Regions from separate parts of the Homo sapiens genome. Here region 2 is linked to region 1. Evidence: fine-mapped expression QTL. Tissue or cell type: whole blood. Region 1 holds a variant in brackets; the other region holds the start of a gene. All regions are shown on one strand. Distances are from middle to middle.

Region 1 (8,109 bases):
AGTTGAAATATGTAGTGGGAACATCTTTTCAAAAAACAAAAACCCTACTATAAAATATATTTTGTAATGAGGCAATCATACTTTTATTATTTTTCTATTTTGAACTTTCTTAAAGCAGGAGATGTTTGTGTTGGACAACCAACTTGTGTTGTGCCTTTTATATAATATTCTATATTATATTATATTATATTATATTATATTATATTATATTATAGGAAAGGAAAAACAAAGAAGGAAAAACAAAATACAAATCAACCACAGTAGAGCAAGAATATGCTCCTAAAAGTTGCCAACTGTGGTGGCAGGAGAGTGAGTGCAGGGTGCCCTCTACTCAGGCTAACAAGAGTTTTGAGGGGATGAACATTCAAACCACAGCAGGTGTCTCCTAAGCTTGCAAAGCAGAGTGGCAATGCAGAAATTCCATGACATGGAAGCCAGACCAACTTGAGTGGGTTGATCTTCATTCATCTTTAATCACGTTCCCAGAACTACTGTTCCTCTCTTGATTATAAAATGTGTAGTATCCACCTGGCAGGACTATTTAAATGTTAAATGAAATAATAATATTCTATATTATGTTATATATAAAATTATATATATTCTATATTATATTATATAAAAGTTGGTTGTCCAACATAAGCATCTCCTGCTTTAGGAAAAGAGGAATATAATATTCATCTAATAAAATGGAAAGTCCTAAATAAAGTATGTTTACTTTGTTAGCTTCTCTAATAAAATCTCAAATCCAGAATAATATCTTGGTCCATACATCAAGTCGGTGAAATAATACCATAGAATCAGAAAATAGAAAATGGTAACCAGTGCTCCATTAGGGAAGAATTCTACATTTGCGATCACAGAGTCGCTTCTAATTAATTGGTTTTGACTTTAGACATATTGTTTCACTCTTCTGGCCTCAGATTCTACATCTGGAAGATGAAGGGGTTATAGCTGATGGTCTCTGTACATTCCCCTCTAGCTTTCAAGTTCAGTAAGATAATGGGTCTTGAAGGTATATTTACAACCAGCCCATCCTTTCCTTCTTGGTCAATAATCCCCAGCTGTCATTCTCACCTGCTAGTTGTCCCTTAACTTCAATTTCCCACTCTTCCCTATAGGATCTTAGAAATACTAAAGGGAACATCTAATATTCACAATTCCTGGGCCTGAGCACCCCCTGGGCACACAGAGATAAACTGCTATAGCCCTGGAAGAAATCAGGGCTCTGGGAAGCCGGGGTCTAACTAAAGTTAGCACCAAATCCCTGAACTTCCCTGTGTGTACTATGAGACAAGAACTGTGGGACTTTCCTGACTTGGGCAGGAAAGGAGCTTGGAAGAATGAGAGGGACTGGGTGGCAAGCTCTATCATCAAACAGGCGCTGCAGGGGCTCTGCAGGGCTGTCCCCAGACAGGTACATTTGGAAGGGAGGGAGATGAGGTAGGGACTTGGCAGATGCCCAGTGGGTGTAAGTCAGTGGCCACACAGTGAGTGTACAGGGGCTAAAGGGCAGCCACTTGAAAAAATGTGCTGTTCAACTGAATAAGTTCACAAGGAACAATCCAAAGATTACTAAATATCAATTATTTGTGTTGCCTGAATTGTCCTCCAATCCCAATAAATATCATGCGTGCATTTCAACAGGGATTTTATCTTCGTGTATTTACCATTTTTGATGCTTTCTTTCATTTCTTTTACTGGTTTGTATACACACCTTCTGCGTTTGTAGGCCATATAACCATTATTTTAAGCCTTTTAGGATATGGCTGTCCTGTAGTGAGGCACTTTTTGTAGAGTATGTGCATGAGCCTGCGTATGTGTGTGGTGTGTGTGCGCTGCGTATGTTTGTGTCTGTGTGTGTATATGTGTGTGTGGTGTACGTAAGTGTCTTCATGTGTTTCCGTGTATGGTGTATGTGTTGCACGTGGTGATGTGTTGGGTGTGCACGTTTGTGTGTGCATATGTGTGGTATATGGTGTTTCTCTGGGTCTTTGCATGGTGTGTCTCTCTGTGTATTTGTGTTACATATGTTTGTGGCTCTGTGGGTGTTTATTGGGTTGTGTATGTGTGTAGTGTGTATGTTTGTGTGTGTTGTATGTGTGGTGTGTGTGTCTCTCTGTGTTTGTGTGTGGTGTGTATATTTGTATCTGTGTGTATGTGTGATGTGTCTCTCTGCGTGTGGTCTATTTGTGTGTGTATTTGTGCTGTGTATATTTGCAACTCTGTGGGTGTTTATGTGGGCTGTGCATGTGTGTAGTGTGCATGTTTGTGTCTGTGTGTGTGTGATGTATGTGTCTGTGTGTGCTGTGTCTATCTGTGTGTGTATTTGTGCTATGTATGTGTGTGGCTTTGTGGGTTGTATATGTGTATGAGTTAACTCCTGTGTGCAGACTGCAGCCCCTCAGGCCTAGACTCTGGGCTCTTCTCTCAGGCCTTAGCATCTATGCCAGGCAACTGAGATTTCTCAGGCACTCCTGGGAACTGTGCCTCATGTCCCAGAGAGCGTGTGGAAAGCACTCTCTGCGGCAGGTGTCTGACAGCCTGCAGGGTTGCTATGTGCCTAGGGTGTGGCACACAACCCCTCTGCGGAGGATGAGTGCCTGTGGTTATCAGCAGAGTCAGTGCACTGAAGAGGCCATTATCACGGGCACCGGAGTGCATGAATCATGGGGTATGTCATTTTCTATTTTAGGAAGAAAAAGAAAACATCTCGAGCGAATCAATCAATTCTCATTAGGCCCATTCATAGCCACATTGCCTGGTCCTCTTTCAGGGGCTGGAAGAAGTGGCCCACATCCAAATCCACCATTCAATCCGTAGGCCTTTGCCCCATATTCCGGCCCCATTTCCTTGCTTGATGTGTGCACACAGCTCTGCCTCATGCTGTGAGTGTGCATACCTCCTCCGTGTCCCTCAGTCAGCCTCCTGCCTCCTGACTTGGGTCGCACTCAGGAGGTAAAGACACTTTCTCTAGGCCACAGCATTCTAAGTTGGTGTAATTTTCTGTTTAAACTCATGATGAATGAACTCTAACATTCATTCAGTAGGTGTGGCCACATGCAGAGTTAGGCATTCAAGATGCAGGGAGGATTAGAAAAAATGGTAGTTAAGGGCATAGACTTTGATTAAGATAGAACCTGTTTACATTGCTTCTTCACCCCTTCCTCTGTGACCCGGGGCAGACAAGGTAACTTCCTGAAGGCTCTGCTTCCTCAT[T/G]TGTGAAATGGGCACTTACCTAACTGTGGTGCTGTGAGGCCAATGACAGCTGAAAGTGCCAGCTGTGGTGTGGATGGTCACTCAACCTTCATTCCTGCCTCTTGCTGGGTGAAGTTGGAAAGCTGAGCACCATGATTCCAAGGCTCCTTTGCAGTCGGGGTTCTAGAAGCAAGCTGTCTTCTGCCAAGTAGAGGCACTCAGTGCAAGATGTGCAAAGCAGAAGCTGCACCCCTTTGTAGCCATTTTGCTGGCCAGCAAAGCTGGGGAAATAGGAGGTTTTTCTGCATCAGAGTTCCAGAGTCCATTCTCCAGCTTCTTGGGTATCGAGAGGCAGGAATTGTAGCAGAGGCAGCAGTCACTTCTGGATTCCAGCACAGCTCCAGAGGTGCCCTAGAGGTGGTGGTTAATTTCTATACTGCTTTGTGAGCCCCAGCCTAGAACCTGCTCCTTCAGCCCTTCTAACCGTTTTGCAAGCACATTATCCCTTGACTAAATCCCTTCCTACTCAATGTAAGTGAAGCAATTTCTGTTTCCTGCACTGAATCCTAACAGATAAAGCTATTATTATTTGTATACAGAAGAACAAGTTAAAGTAATAGCAGCTGCCACATATTGGTTATACCATAAGTCCAGATTTTTATAGATGGTATCTAATTTCATTCTCCCAGAAAAATCACACAGCCCCTGAAGGGTCTAATCAGAGTGTGAACCTAGGTTTCTCTGGCACCAAAGGCGGGGTGCCAAACCATTATACTCCTCTGTTCATGCTCTGGAAGAGCTCGCAGGTCAGGAAGGATGCATTCTGGTGAATAAATGGCTACAGTGCAGTGAGAGAGATGCTGAAAAAAACTGTGGGCCCAGGCCTATGGAGCCCAGATGAGAAAATGCCTAACTCTGCCTAGCCTCGGAAGTCCAAGATGGAGTGTGATTCCCACCTTGGCAAGGAATCATGACCTCCAGGCTCCTTAAGATGTTGGGGACCTCTGCCTTGAAGCTCCAATATCCTGTTTCTCAAGAAACCATGATTTAGGAACTCCACAGAAGGAAGAAAGAAAGGGAAAAAGGAGAGAGGGAGGGAGAAAGCGAAGCAGGGAGGGAGGGAGGGAGGGAGGGAGCCCTAGCCTGCAGCGGCATTTGGCTACCTGGGGGGCTGAACCCTTTGTATCCTATTCTCAGCTCTTTTACCCAGGCTTTCAGGTACCATGGTTTTCTCACACACCTGGCCTTGCATAGATTGTACCACTCCTCACCCTTTTCTAGCACCTGGAAAATGGGTTTGCCTTTATTTGGTGGTTCCTTTTAATGTCTATCTTTTCAGGAATTGAGATAATTTTTCCTCCACCCTAATTTAAAGGCTTATGAACATATGTAAAAGCTTAGGAGTACCAATGTGTTTCTGAAAGGTTTTTTGTTTGTTTGTTTGTTTGTTTGTTTGTTTGTTTTGAGAAGGAGTCTTGCTCTGTCACCCAGGCTGGAGTGCAGTGGCACGATCTCGGTTCAGTGCAACCTCTGCTTCCCGGGTTCAAGCAATTGCCTGCCTCAGCCTCCCGAGTTGCTGGGATTACAGGCGCCCACCACCATGCCCAACTAATTTCTGTATTTTTAGTAGAGACGGGGTTTCACCATCTTGGCCAGGCTAGTCTTGAACCCCTGACATCATGATCCACCTGCCTCGGGCTCCCAAAGTGCTGGGATTACAGGTTTGAGCCACCACGCCTGGCCTGAAAGGTCTTTTAATACTGAAAAAACAAACAAACAAACAAACCAAAAAAAAACCAAGACTTATTCAGCTGCATCTCTAAATGAAACATGCATCCCAGCAAACAATCATAGCTGGCCTCCCTTATTAGGGACCTGGAGATCCTAGGCTATAGGAAATACATATCCTTTGCATTTGTATGCTTGAAATTTACAAAACAATTTTTAGTTGTTTTGTTTTTTAACTCTCAACTGATTTTTTAAAAAAAGATACAACCGATTGTTTGATCTGCTGCCTGCAAGATATTTTGAATAGGCACACTATTCCTGTTTCAGAGGAGTAGGTTGAAGCCAGAGTCCCACATCTTGTAAGTGACGGAGTTAATTGATGACTCTGAATTAGTGCATTTCCCTATTTTCCTTGAAAGTAAACCTTTCCCCAGAGCTGCTGGAATAAAAGGTATGGGGGTCTCTTTTTTGCTCTTCCTCTGCCTACCTGAAGCATGTGTGAGGAGCTGGCTCTGTTTCCCTGGCTGGAACCTGGAGCAGGAAGTCCCAACCTGTGGCATCAGCTCTGGAAGTAGAAGCAGGGTCCTGTGGAGGAGGTGGTTCCAGATGTAGGGCCTCTGATTTCTTGCCTCTCAGCTCCCTCATTTTCAGGGTTTGCTACCACCCCCTAATTTCCAGGTAATGGTCTTGTAAAATTTTATGAATTGGACCATCAGGAGTGATGTGGTTAGGTTTTATGTACCCACCCAAATCTCAGCTTGAATTAGAATTCCCATAATCCCCAGGTGTCAAGGGAGAGACCAGGTGGAGGTAATTGAATCATATGGGTGGTTTCCCCCATGTTGTTCTCGTGATAGTGAGTGAGTTCTCACGAGATCTGATGGTTTTATAAGGGGATCTTCCTCCATTGCTCTCCTTTCTGCAGTCTGGTGAAGAAGGTACATTTCTTCTCCTTCGTCTTCCGCTATGATTGCATGTTTTCTGTGAGGCCTCCCGAGCCATGCTGAACTGTGAGTCTGTTAAACCTCTTTTCTTTATAAATTACCCAGTCTTGGACAGCTCTTTATAGCAGTTATAAAACGGACTAATACAAGGAGCCTAAACCTTGAGCACATTTTCTAATTTCTAGCCCCTGGGTAACTGGCTCCTCTCTCCACATTTAGCCCCATGCCCATGTTCAGACCCTTAGCAGAGCCCTGGGCATGGGGCCAAGGAATTGCAGAAGATTCTGGTCCCAGGACAACTGTTAAATGATTTCAGAAAGGTAAAGACCACCACATATGTGCACCTCAAAATAGTTTCAGGACACACAGGACCTCAAATACCACAGTGTTTTATAGAGGGCACAAAAAGGGGGCTTAGAAATTATTAAGCCTTCAGAAGAAAAGATGATAGGAGGGAAGTAACAGTGGAGATAATGAAGCATTTGTAAGATAATGATATCAAAAATCACATTCAAATAGTATTTGCTGATTTCAAAAGCTTTCTCACCTATATTATTTCATGTAATTCTCAAAGTAATAGTCTAAAGCTGGGTGCTGTGACATGCTCCTAAAGTCCCAGCTACTTGGGAGGCTGAAGTAGGAAGATCATTTGAGCCCAGAAGTTCTAGGCTGTGGTGTGCTATGAATAGCCACTGCACTCCAGCCTGGGCAACACGGCAGGACCCTGTATCTTAAAAAAAAAAAAAAAAAAAAAAAGTAACAGCCTTGCGAAGTAGGCAGAGCAGACATTACCATGCCAGTGTAAAAGACAAAAAGCCTGAAGCTTGGGGTTGGGGTCTTCTGATCCCAAATCTAAATCTCCAGTGAAAATTAGGAGCAATATTGTATATAGCAACATCAATTTAAAAAAAAACTCTAATGTCCCAATTACCTGATTCTGGTTTCTGCCTGCTCAGTCTCCTGCAAATTCCCTCTTGATTGGTCCTCGGAGTCCCCAAGAGGTATTTCACGTGTGTGCTCAGGAATAAGTTTCCCTTCCGATGGCTTCCCTGGTTCTGGGGCCCTGATGAATGTCATACTGCCCTGGATCACTGCCCAGACCCCACTATGTGGCCATCACCTCCCTAGAGCAGTCCTCTTTCCTGTAGCCACAGGCCCCACCCTTTTTCTGGTAGCATTCACTTCCATTCCCCGGGATGTCAAGGTTATTTGGTGGTCTATGGCAGAACAGGAGAGAGTGGCTCTCTCTTCATGGAATTACACTTTGTTAGAGGCTCCCAGAGCAGTGTTAACATGATTCCAATGTGAGAGAGGTTAACTCAGACACCTAGGTCAGTTTTTATCTCTCCAGGGGGAGGGCTTGGGATGGATGCATTTAACAGCCATGCAATTCTGTAAAGTTCCACTCAGTATCTTTCCTCTGGGGCTTTATTCCTACCCTCTCAGTCTCTGTCAGTTTCTTAGTCAACTCAGGAACCAAATGGAGTCAAGTGCATATTTTGGATGAATTCTTTGTTGCTCAAAACTGAGGAATCAAGCAGAGTGGGACAACTCATTGTTCCTTAATCTCTTAATGCTACTATTTGGGTAGAGAGGAACTCTTGTCTTAATCCCCGATACATCAGTGTAGTTTGAAGCACTCGCAATCCAGTGACGAAGAAGATGGGCACAGTTCCTGCTGCCTTGGATGCTTCAGTCTGAGAGGTCGATGGTACCGTGCCTGCTTTCTTCTTTAGGATGAATGTTTCATGGGAAGCTTATCTAGATTATTCACTCTCCTCCTACTCCCCTACCTGTATCCTCCACCCACGCTCCCAATTTACAAAAAAAATTTTTTTAACTGAATTTTTATTTTAGATAATTGCCAATTAATGTGCAGATGTAAGAAATATTATAGAGAGATCCTTTGTATCACTTATCCAGTTTCCTCCCGTGGTAACATCTTGCAAAATTATAGAATAATATCACAACCAGGATATTGACATTGGCACAGTCAAGATACAGAACAGGCCAGGCACAGTGGCTCATGCCTGTAATCCTGGCACTTTGGGAGGCTGAGGTGGGAGGATGGCTTGAGCCCAGGAGGTCGAGGCTGCAGTGAGCCATGATTGCACCACTGCACCCAGGCTGGGTGACACGGCAAGACTTCGTTTCAAAAAAAAAAAAAAGAAAGAAGAAAAGATACAGAACATTTCCATCACTACAAAGATACCTCATATTGCCCTTTTATACCCACCTCCAC
Region 2 (8,099 bases), 160 kb before region 1:
TTATTTTGATTTGGTTTAAGATTCTACTATGGTCCATTCTTTTGGAAAGAACTGATGTTGGTTTATTACATAATAATAATTTTTAAAAGAATATTTTACAATTCTGGGTTGGGTTTCCAGGGTGTTCCCCAACCCTGAGTCTCAATTGTATCTCTTTAACATGATTTAAAGGTCTCACTGAATGCCTATTGAAATCATTCATACACAGGGAAAACTCCATTTCCTAAACAGAAAAGGTTTGGTCAATGTGAGCCCTACCCTAAATTTTGTGTCTAATGTGTATAAGGCAACCACACAGGCCCTGGGAAGGCACTCCAGATCCCCAGGTAAAGGACTTCATACTTGCAGAGTGAGAATGGATCCTTTAAAAGACAGAGAAAGGGCCGGGCACAGTGGCTCACGCCTGTAATCGCAGCACTTTGGGAGGCCGAGGCAGGCGGATCACAAGGTCAGGAGTTCAAGACAAGTCTGGCCAATATGGTGAAACCTCGTCTCTACTAAAAATACCAAAAAATTAGCTGGGTGTGGTGGCACACGCCTGTAATCCCAGCTCCTTGGGAGGCTGAGGCAGGAGAATTGCTTGAACCCGGGAGGCAGAGGTTACAGTGAGTGGAGGTTGCAGTGAGCCGAGATTGCGCCACTGCATCCAGCCTGAGCAACAGAGTAAGACTCCGTCTCAAAAAAAAAAAAAAAAAAAAAAAAAAAAAAGAGAAAAGTTGTTTCCTAATAGAGATAAGATTTGGGAGTAGAGCAAAATCCTAATACAAAGCTTTTATTTCAGGCAGCAGAACAACATTGAAGAAATACTTTTAATCTCAGGCTATTTCTGCAGATTTGGAACAAAATCTTTCCCTGTAATTGCTCTCCCACTCCACCCACCCCTTGGACATGGCAATTCTACTCTAAGAGAGAAAAATATGACTTCAAAGCACATGCAATGGAACCCCTTGTCAGCACTGATATGGTGTGTACCAAGAAACAGAAAAGTTCATGGGTTCAAGCATTCTAATGCTCTTTTTATGGTGGGGGTGAAGAATGGGGGCGGGTGGCAATTTAGGGAAGAAGGGGAAGGAGAAGAAAGGGCAGCAGACACAGCAAAGTCAAACTGGATGAAACAGGCTGTTTTACTTTTAACTTCTCTAAAAGTACAGTCTGGGTTTCTGCGGGTGAACCAGTTAAGGGTTTTCTTCTGCTTTTACTTCTCGCCTATGCTCAAGCCTCCCTGGTCAGTTCTTGGACTCATCTGCGCCCTAATTTCATCATTTTAAGTAAATGTGGGGCTGGCCAAGGAGGACAAGGCCTCTTGTTCACTCCTGAAAGAGTCAGTGGTCATGTATTATGTTCCTAACCCTTACAAAGCGTGCCCCTGGTCACATGAATGGATCAAAGCAAATCCATTTCCATTCTTGGAAAAGCAGCTCAAAGCACATGTTCTCTTGATGGTGCTGCTGTCACTTCTGTGTGGTTAACAAATATCATTTATTGAACACTCACCGTGGACACTACTGGGGGATATGACAATGAATAAACTGCTCAATGAGGTCAAGACATCTAGGAAGGGAAGCAGGCACTCAAATGGCAGAAATACCATAAGCCTGCAGAACCGCACTCACGCCTTACCATTCCGTTCTCTGTTATGTTTGTCATCCCCACCTCAGGGGCTGGTGGTGTGTGCAGCAGAGGCTCTGGCTTATGGTTCGGTAGTTTGGTATCTGGAAATGATTAATAACATCTTTTAAAATAAAAATATCACTTTTCTCCTCCTTTGCTCCCCTTCCTCGACCATTTAAACTCAAACCTTTACAGAAAGAGATGAAGACAGCTCACTGTGTTACCAAGGTTAAGTCCAGTTTGATATAATGAATGGTAAAGCATTACACTGAGTCAGAAAAGTTGTATTCAAAAGTCGCTATGGGGAAAGAAAGAATCCAATCACCTCAGATTATAGAACTTGGCCTATGATAATTATAATTGCTGTTTTCTAAACATTTACGATGCACCAAGGACTACTCAATCTCTTCTGCATGTGCTATCACAATTAATCCTTTTATGAGGTAAAAATGATTATCCCTCTTTTATTATAGACAAAGAAACAGGCTTCATGTGGCTAAGTGATTTGGCCAACACAAAGCTGGTATGAAGGGAAAGCCCAGATTTGAACCTAGGTTTACCTGACTTGCAGCCGTGCCTTTAGCCACCACAATGTAATGCTTCAAGGGGCAGCACTGAAATTTAACAAGGAATTTGTAAGGCACCTTACCCAATCCAAAATGTCACCAGTCTGAAACATCCCAAAAAACCCTGTTTGAGATGAATGCTGCATCTGTCATGTAAAAGCACTACAGTGTTATACACTCTTAAAGGAAAGGGATGTTGACCAAAGAAGCCAAGTTATGTGTGTGTGGTTGCAGGCAACATTTCTTTTCCACATTTGCGGTACAAAACATAACCAGAACAAACTTCTTCCCTTCCTCTTCCAAAGGCACTGGAAGCATAAATTCTTGCTCTTTAAACTGAAAGAAGCAATAAAATCTGGACACCATCAGGTAGATTTCAGGCACTAAAAATAGAATGATCGAGTAATAGTACGGATAGCAGTATCTACCTACCTACCTACCTACCTACCTATGTTGTGTCTCTAGGTACATTTCAATATTGTGTTCACATACACATTTTCCCAACCATCACGGCAAGCTGAGAGGAGAGGTATGTATTCCCATTTTCCAGATTAACAAGAAGCCGCACTTGATAAAGCAAAATCAGGGAGAATTCGTTAAAGGAATTTCTTGACAATCCCTGGACTTCAAAGGGGGCAAGTGAACACCTCGATTTCCTTTCAGCTGCTCCGGGGGCAGTTTGCACACAGAATTTCAAATCTAGTGGGCGGCTCCACAGGTCATTTTCGATGACCACTTTATTTTGCAGATGAGGAAACTTGGGCCCTGAAAGACCTGCCTAGGGTCTGGCCAGCAGTATGAGACAGGTCTCCAGACTTAGTTTCTACCGCCCTCCAGAATCCTCTCTGTAAAATTAGAGAAACAGCACGTTGATTTCAAATGTGAAATGGCAGAGTTCTGTTTATTTCCCCAGACCCAAGAGAGCCGGAGCGGGCGGCTCTTCCAGGCCTTGGGAACCCCGGCCTGTCCCCAGGCCCGCGCGGCACCCGCCCTAGCCCAGGCCCGCCCAAAGTTCCCTCGGGTCCCGCGCCCCGCGCTCCCTCTCAAGCTAACCCCTGCCCGCAGGAAGCGGGGCTCGGAGGCTCCCTCGCAACAAAAGGCTAAATTCGGTTTCCCTGGTTCCGCATTTCCCCAGGGAGCTCTCCTCGTAAAACTATTCCCCGTGAAGGCGGCAGGGCAGAGGTCCAGGGCGGGCTTTGCTGGGAGCCTCGGGACCCCGGGTTGGGGGCCGTGGGGCGGCACCTGGCGAGCTGGCGGGTGGGCGGCGAGCCGAGGCTTCCCGGCCTGGCGGCAACTCGCCCCTCTGCCCTCAGCCCTCCCGGCTCCGCTCCCTTCCCCCACGCCGCCCTGCCCCTCCCCCACGCCCCTTTCTCTTTCTTTCTTTCTTTCCCAGTTCGCTTGCCCCCACCCCAGCGGCGCCCGCCGGGCTCCTCGCCCAATGGCCGCGGGGCCCGGGACCGCATCAGCTGATCGGCCCGGGCTCCTGGCCGCTGGGAGCCAATCAGGGCACCGGGGGCGGCCCCGGGCCGCGGATAAAGGGTGCGGGGCTGCTGGCGGCTCTGCAGAGTCGAGAGTGGGAGAAGAGCGGAGCGTGTGAGCAGTACTGCGGCCTCCTCTCCTCTCCTAACCTCGCTCTCGCGGCCTAGCTTTACCCGCCCGCCTGCTCGGCGACCAGGTAAGCCCCCGGACGGCCCGGTGTCACGCAAGCGAGGCGCGCCGCCCCTGCTACCCCGCGAGGCGCGCCGCCCAGCCTCTTTTTTCGGCTGCCTGCCCCTCCAGTCCCAGCCCTACGCTGCGGCCTCTCCGGCCCATGCCTGAGATCCGGCATGAGTGCTCCTCCCGCGTGCTTCCGCCGCTGGTGGCTTGGACCCGTCGGGGCTGGCGCTGGTGGGGCGCGCCCTTGGCCAGGCTCTGGGAAGGGCGGGGTGAGTTGTTTTGATCTTCTTTTCACTACTTGCGGCCGAAGCGCCGCCCCTGGAGGCCGTTGGGCCGGCCTGCGCCCTGGGGCTCGCAGTGGTTTGTTTGCGCTGTGGATGGAGTGGCGGTGCGGTCCCCTGTGGAGCGCAAACAAGGCGCTTGGTTGGCGCGGGCGCCTGGCTGCCTTCCTCGTGGTGGGGCCTTCGGAGCAATCGTCCTGGTTCTGGCGATGGTTGAGACGCCTCGATTGCGGCGTGTAACGGTGAGCGTTGTTTGGGCGGCCGGCTCCCGCCTCGGGGTCCCGGGGGCCTTCCAATGTGACCGAACAATGGAGAGCCCGGGCCTCGGCGCAGTCAGTGGAGAAGCCGGTCCGGGCGGAGGCAGCAGCAGCGCGCAGTCCCTACGGCCTGCGCCCCCACCCTCCCCCGGACCCCCCAACCCCTCGGCGGCAGGGTATGGCCACCTCCGTGAGGCCCTGAGATTCGGACGGGGGCCCGAGGGGCAGGGCGCCCACTTTAGGGACATTTCAGTGGGAAGGGGCTGCTCTCAAAGTGGATAATTATAACTCCCTCGGGGGCGGGAAGCGGGGATCCTCCCCCAGCCGCAAGTCCACGAAGAAAGCAACGAATGAAAATTATGAAGACAACGAGAAGTCAGACTCCTCCGGGTCGCGCTCCAGCTGCTTCGGCTTCGTCGCCTACTCTGTGAACTCCGGGGAGAGATCTCGAGTCAAGATTAAGACCTTAACCCACCAACCTGCCTGTTCGGACACCCCCCGGGCCGGCCGCTGTCTGTCCCCTTCTCCATCGCCCTCTCCCAGAAAGCTCCGGTGCTTGGACCAGCTAGAGTCTGAGAAAGAGGAGAGGCGCGAACGCCACTCCAAAAAGAGAAGGGTTAAAGAGGGCAACCCTAACGATACGCTTGACTTTCTGTGGCTGGGGTGAGTGAGGGGGCAGGGAGGACGACCCCGGAGTTGGTGGGAGCTGCAGAAACTGCTGAAAACTTCAGAATCCATTTCCCCCACGTAAACTTGGCACCGCAGCAGCAGCAGTTGATAGAGTGGCACTAGGCTGCTGGCATGCAACTCGGCTCACGGAAAAGAGCAAGAGATCCGAAACTGAGGCTTAGGACAAAGTGTGCATGATATTGGTGGTGTAACATGTTGGAGAGGACAGCCGAGAAATTGGGTTGTAGGTTTTTTTTTTTTGTTTTCCGACAGAGTCTCTATCTGTTACCCAGGTTGGAGTGCAGTGGTGCAATCTCCCGGCTCACTGCAACCTCTGCCTCTGGGGTTCAGGCGATTCTCCTGTGTCAGCCTCCCGAGTAGCTGGGATTACAGGCGTGCACAACCACGCCCGGCTAATTTTTGTATTTTTAGTAGAGACGGGAGTTTCATCGTGTTGGCCAGGCTGGTCTCGAACTTTGTACCTCAGGTGATCTGCCCGCTTCGGTGGGTTGTAGCTTTTAGCGGGAGCTAAAGGGTTCTGGGATGGAGGTGGGAAGTAGGATTTGGCCGGCTGAGTCTTCTAGAGGCAATATTGGGGTGTTGGTCTTCCCCAAGGGGAAGGGTGGTGAGGCTGAGGGAGAAGCAGTTATGTTTTCAGCTGGGCAAACATGGACGGTTGCCCGTAGAAACTTTGCCACTGTACTTCAGAACGTTGCCCTAGTCGTTGGAGGAGAACAATGTGTTCCCTTTCTAGCCACCCTGGTCCACGGAGGGAGGAGGGAGAGAGAGAATGTTTCCTCTTCGGCTGTTGTGGCTTGAGAGTTTCTCTTCTTTCGGAGGTTTTGTGGTAGTGGCTGGCAGTTATTAGTATGCCTCATGGCTTTTAAATTTCCAGATCTTTTTGATTTAGAAGTGGAAATTTCCTAATTACTTGACAAGTCTTGTAGAATTCCATAATGTTGTGATTCTTGCCCACTATCTTAAGTGAGACTTTGCATGAGACCTATGGAAATTATGGCAGCATTCCCCTTAGAATCTGGCTTGAATCAGCTTTTGTGTAGGAAACTGCTAGCCTTCTAAAAAAATATATTGTAACCTTGTTTCATCCTCAAATCTAAATGTGTAATGAGTTTTCTTTTGGTGGGGAGGGGCGGTGGGTTTGAGTTAAGACCACAGCTAGGATGAAAGACAAAGAGAAAAACAAACTGTGGAAGCCAAGCCTGTTCTGTGGCTGGATTTTACTTATATTGGAAGAAGTTCTATGTTTTGTAAATTTGTGTATTGGTTTTGATTTGTTTCCTCTGATAGTTTAGTATTTGGATAGTTTAGTGTTAACCTCAGCTACACTGAAGGAATAGACCTTAGTCCTCACAAGTATAAGTTCTAGCTTGGAAGCCTGGGTTCTGCAGTAGCTGTGGAACTTAAGCCTGTGAGCTCAGGGATGCAGAGGCATTGAGTTACTACCAAGGGCCTGATCTTTTCTTTAGCAGGCATCTGTGTTAATTGTTTCAAAAGGTGGTGATCAGTTTTACAGCCTATTATAAAGGAGATTTTTGCCTACTATAAAACTAATCCCCCTGAAAGAGTGAGTAAACATAACTTTTTGTGTGTTGACTTCCACAAGGGAAGGAGTTGGCACTTACACTCTGACTTTTGATTCAGTCGTCCTTCTTGAGCCATTTTTGCAGGGGATCAGTTTGGAGTGGGCGTTAACAATGTTATTCTTTTTTTCTTCTCCAGAACACCTTCCACCATGACCACCTCAGCAAGTTCCCACTTAAATAAAGGCATCAAGCAGGTGTACATGTCCCTGCCTCAGGGTGAGAAAGTCCAGGCCATGTATATCTGGATCGATGGTACTGGAGAAGGACTGCGCTGCAAGACCCGGACCCTGGACAGTGAGCCCAAGTGTGTGGAAGGTGAGACAGCAATGTGGAGTGGAGCACATGCTGGGTGGGATCTGCAGAGGGGTGGGCAGCAGCCTTTGACTCAGCCTCTGGATTAGGCCTCTTTCTTCTGTTTGTAAAGGTTTTCTAAGGCAGGGCTTTTCAGACTTTATTCAGTCAACATTAAGCTCCTACACTGCCTCAAAGCAGAGCGACGATGGAACCCTTTATTTCAATGGAATTGTGCACGTAGGCCAGTGTATTGAAGAAAAACTAAGTCTGGTTTATGGAGAGTTGGCATGGGGCTTAGAGGTTGCCGACCTGGACATCCCCACTTAGCTGGCTCTAAGGCACCCTCAGAAAACCACTGCTCTAACCTGAGAATGCCATCTAGTTTACAAACTCTTAGAAAACTGTGTTTAATACTCATATCACTGGCTTCTAGATGTGAAGCAAATGCTCTACAATGGTTTTTAAATAGGACTAATTTTTAGTTGATGCCACTTTTGGAAATTCTTAAACTAATTGCGTATCCCTCTAGGAGCTACAGTTAGATTATAGTTGTGACCTTCATTTTTCAGTCTAGAACAAGCCATAGTCTTCCCTCTTCTGGAAAGGGGCCAGAGGAAAGTATCATATCCTACCTAGTTTAGGGTAGTTTACTTTTCCTTTTTGAGTAAGTGAATGATCATAATACAAAGCCTATATTGTGTACTTGCTATGTGGCAGATGATAGTGCACAGACACTGAAGATACAAAGTGAGAGTCTCGTCTCTGCCTTCAGAGAACTCAGTCAGCTAGAGAGACCAAGCAGCCTTCAAAACAGTGGGAAAGGTGGATAGGTGATAAGGGAGCATCCTAGAGTAAGTCATCCTGCTAGTCGTCTGTTCCCTCATCTATAAAATAAGGACATAACTTGCCAGAATACACTGGGGGCATAAGAAGGATGCAACACATTACCTAATGGAAGAATCAGAATCCTTCACTATCTCAATATTTTAAGTGATTGATAGGATGGTAGTGATAACAGAATGCTTCAGCTTGTCTCCTGGAAGACATTTGGGAAGGGAGTATCTGATATATTTCTTTTAAGGAATTGGTACAATGGTCTTACTTGGAACTCAAATAGGAAGGGCTATAAGATCAGGTACAGGTGCCAGGGTATACATATTA

Evidence for each region. PIP is the estimated chance that this variant, and not a neighbour inherited with it, causes the effect.
Region 2: it holds the start of GLUL, and the variant in region 1 is fine-mapped to the expression of GLUL in whole blood (TOPMed, PIP above 0.99).

Annotation. Positions count from the first base shown.
Region 1 is chr1:182,230,898-182,239,006 of GRCh38, reverse strand. All of the region lies in intron 2 of LINC01344 (long intergenic non-protein coding RNA 1344), which reads left to right. Among named protein-coding and RNA genes, the nearest start is that of LINC01344, 79 kb to the left of the region's middle. The variant T/G (reference allele first, on the strand shown) is at 3,217.
Region 2 is chr1:182,387,432-182,395,530 of GRCh38, reverse strand. GLUL (glutamate-ammonia ligase) reads left to right here and starts at 3,741. Exons shown (of 7, transcript NM_001033044.4): 1 at 3,741-3,852; 2 at 6,781-6,959. The coding sequence starts at 6,794. RefSeq lists a silencer at 3,326-4,005.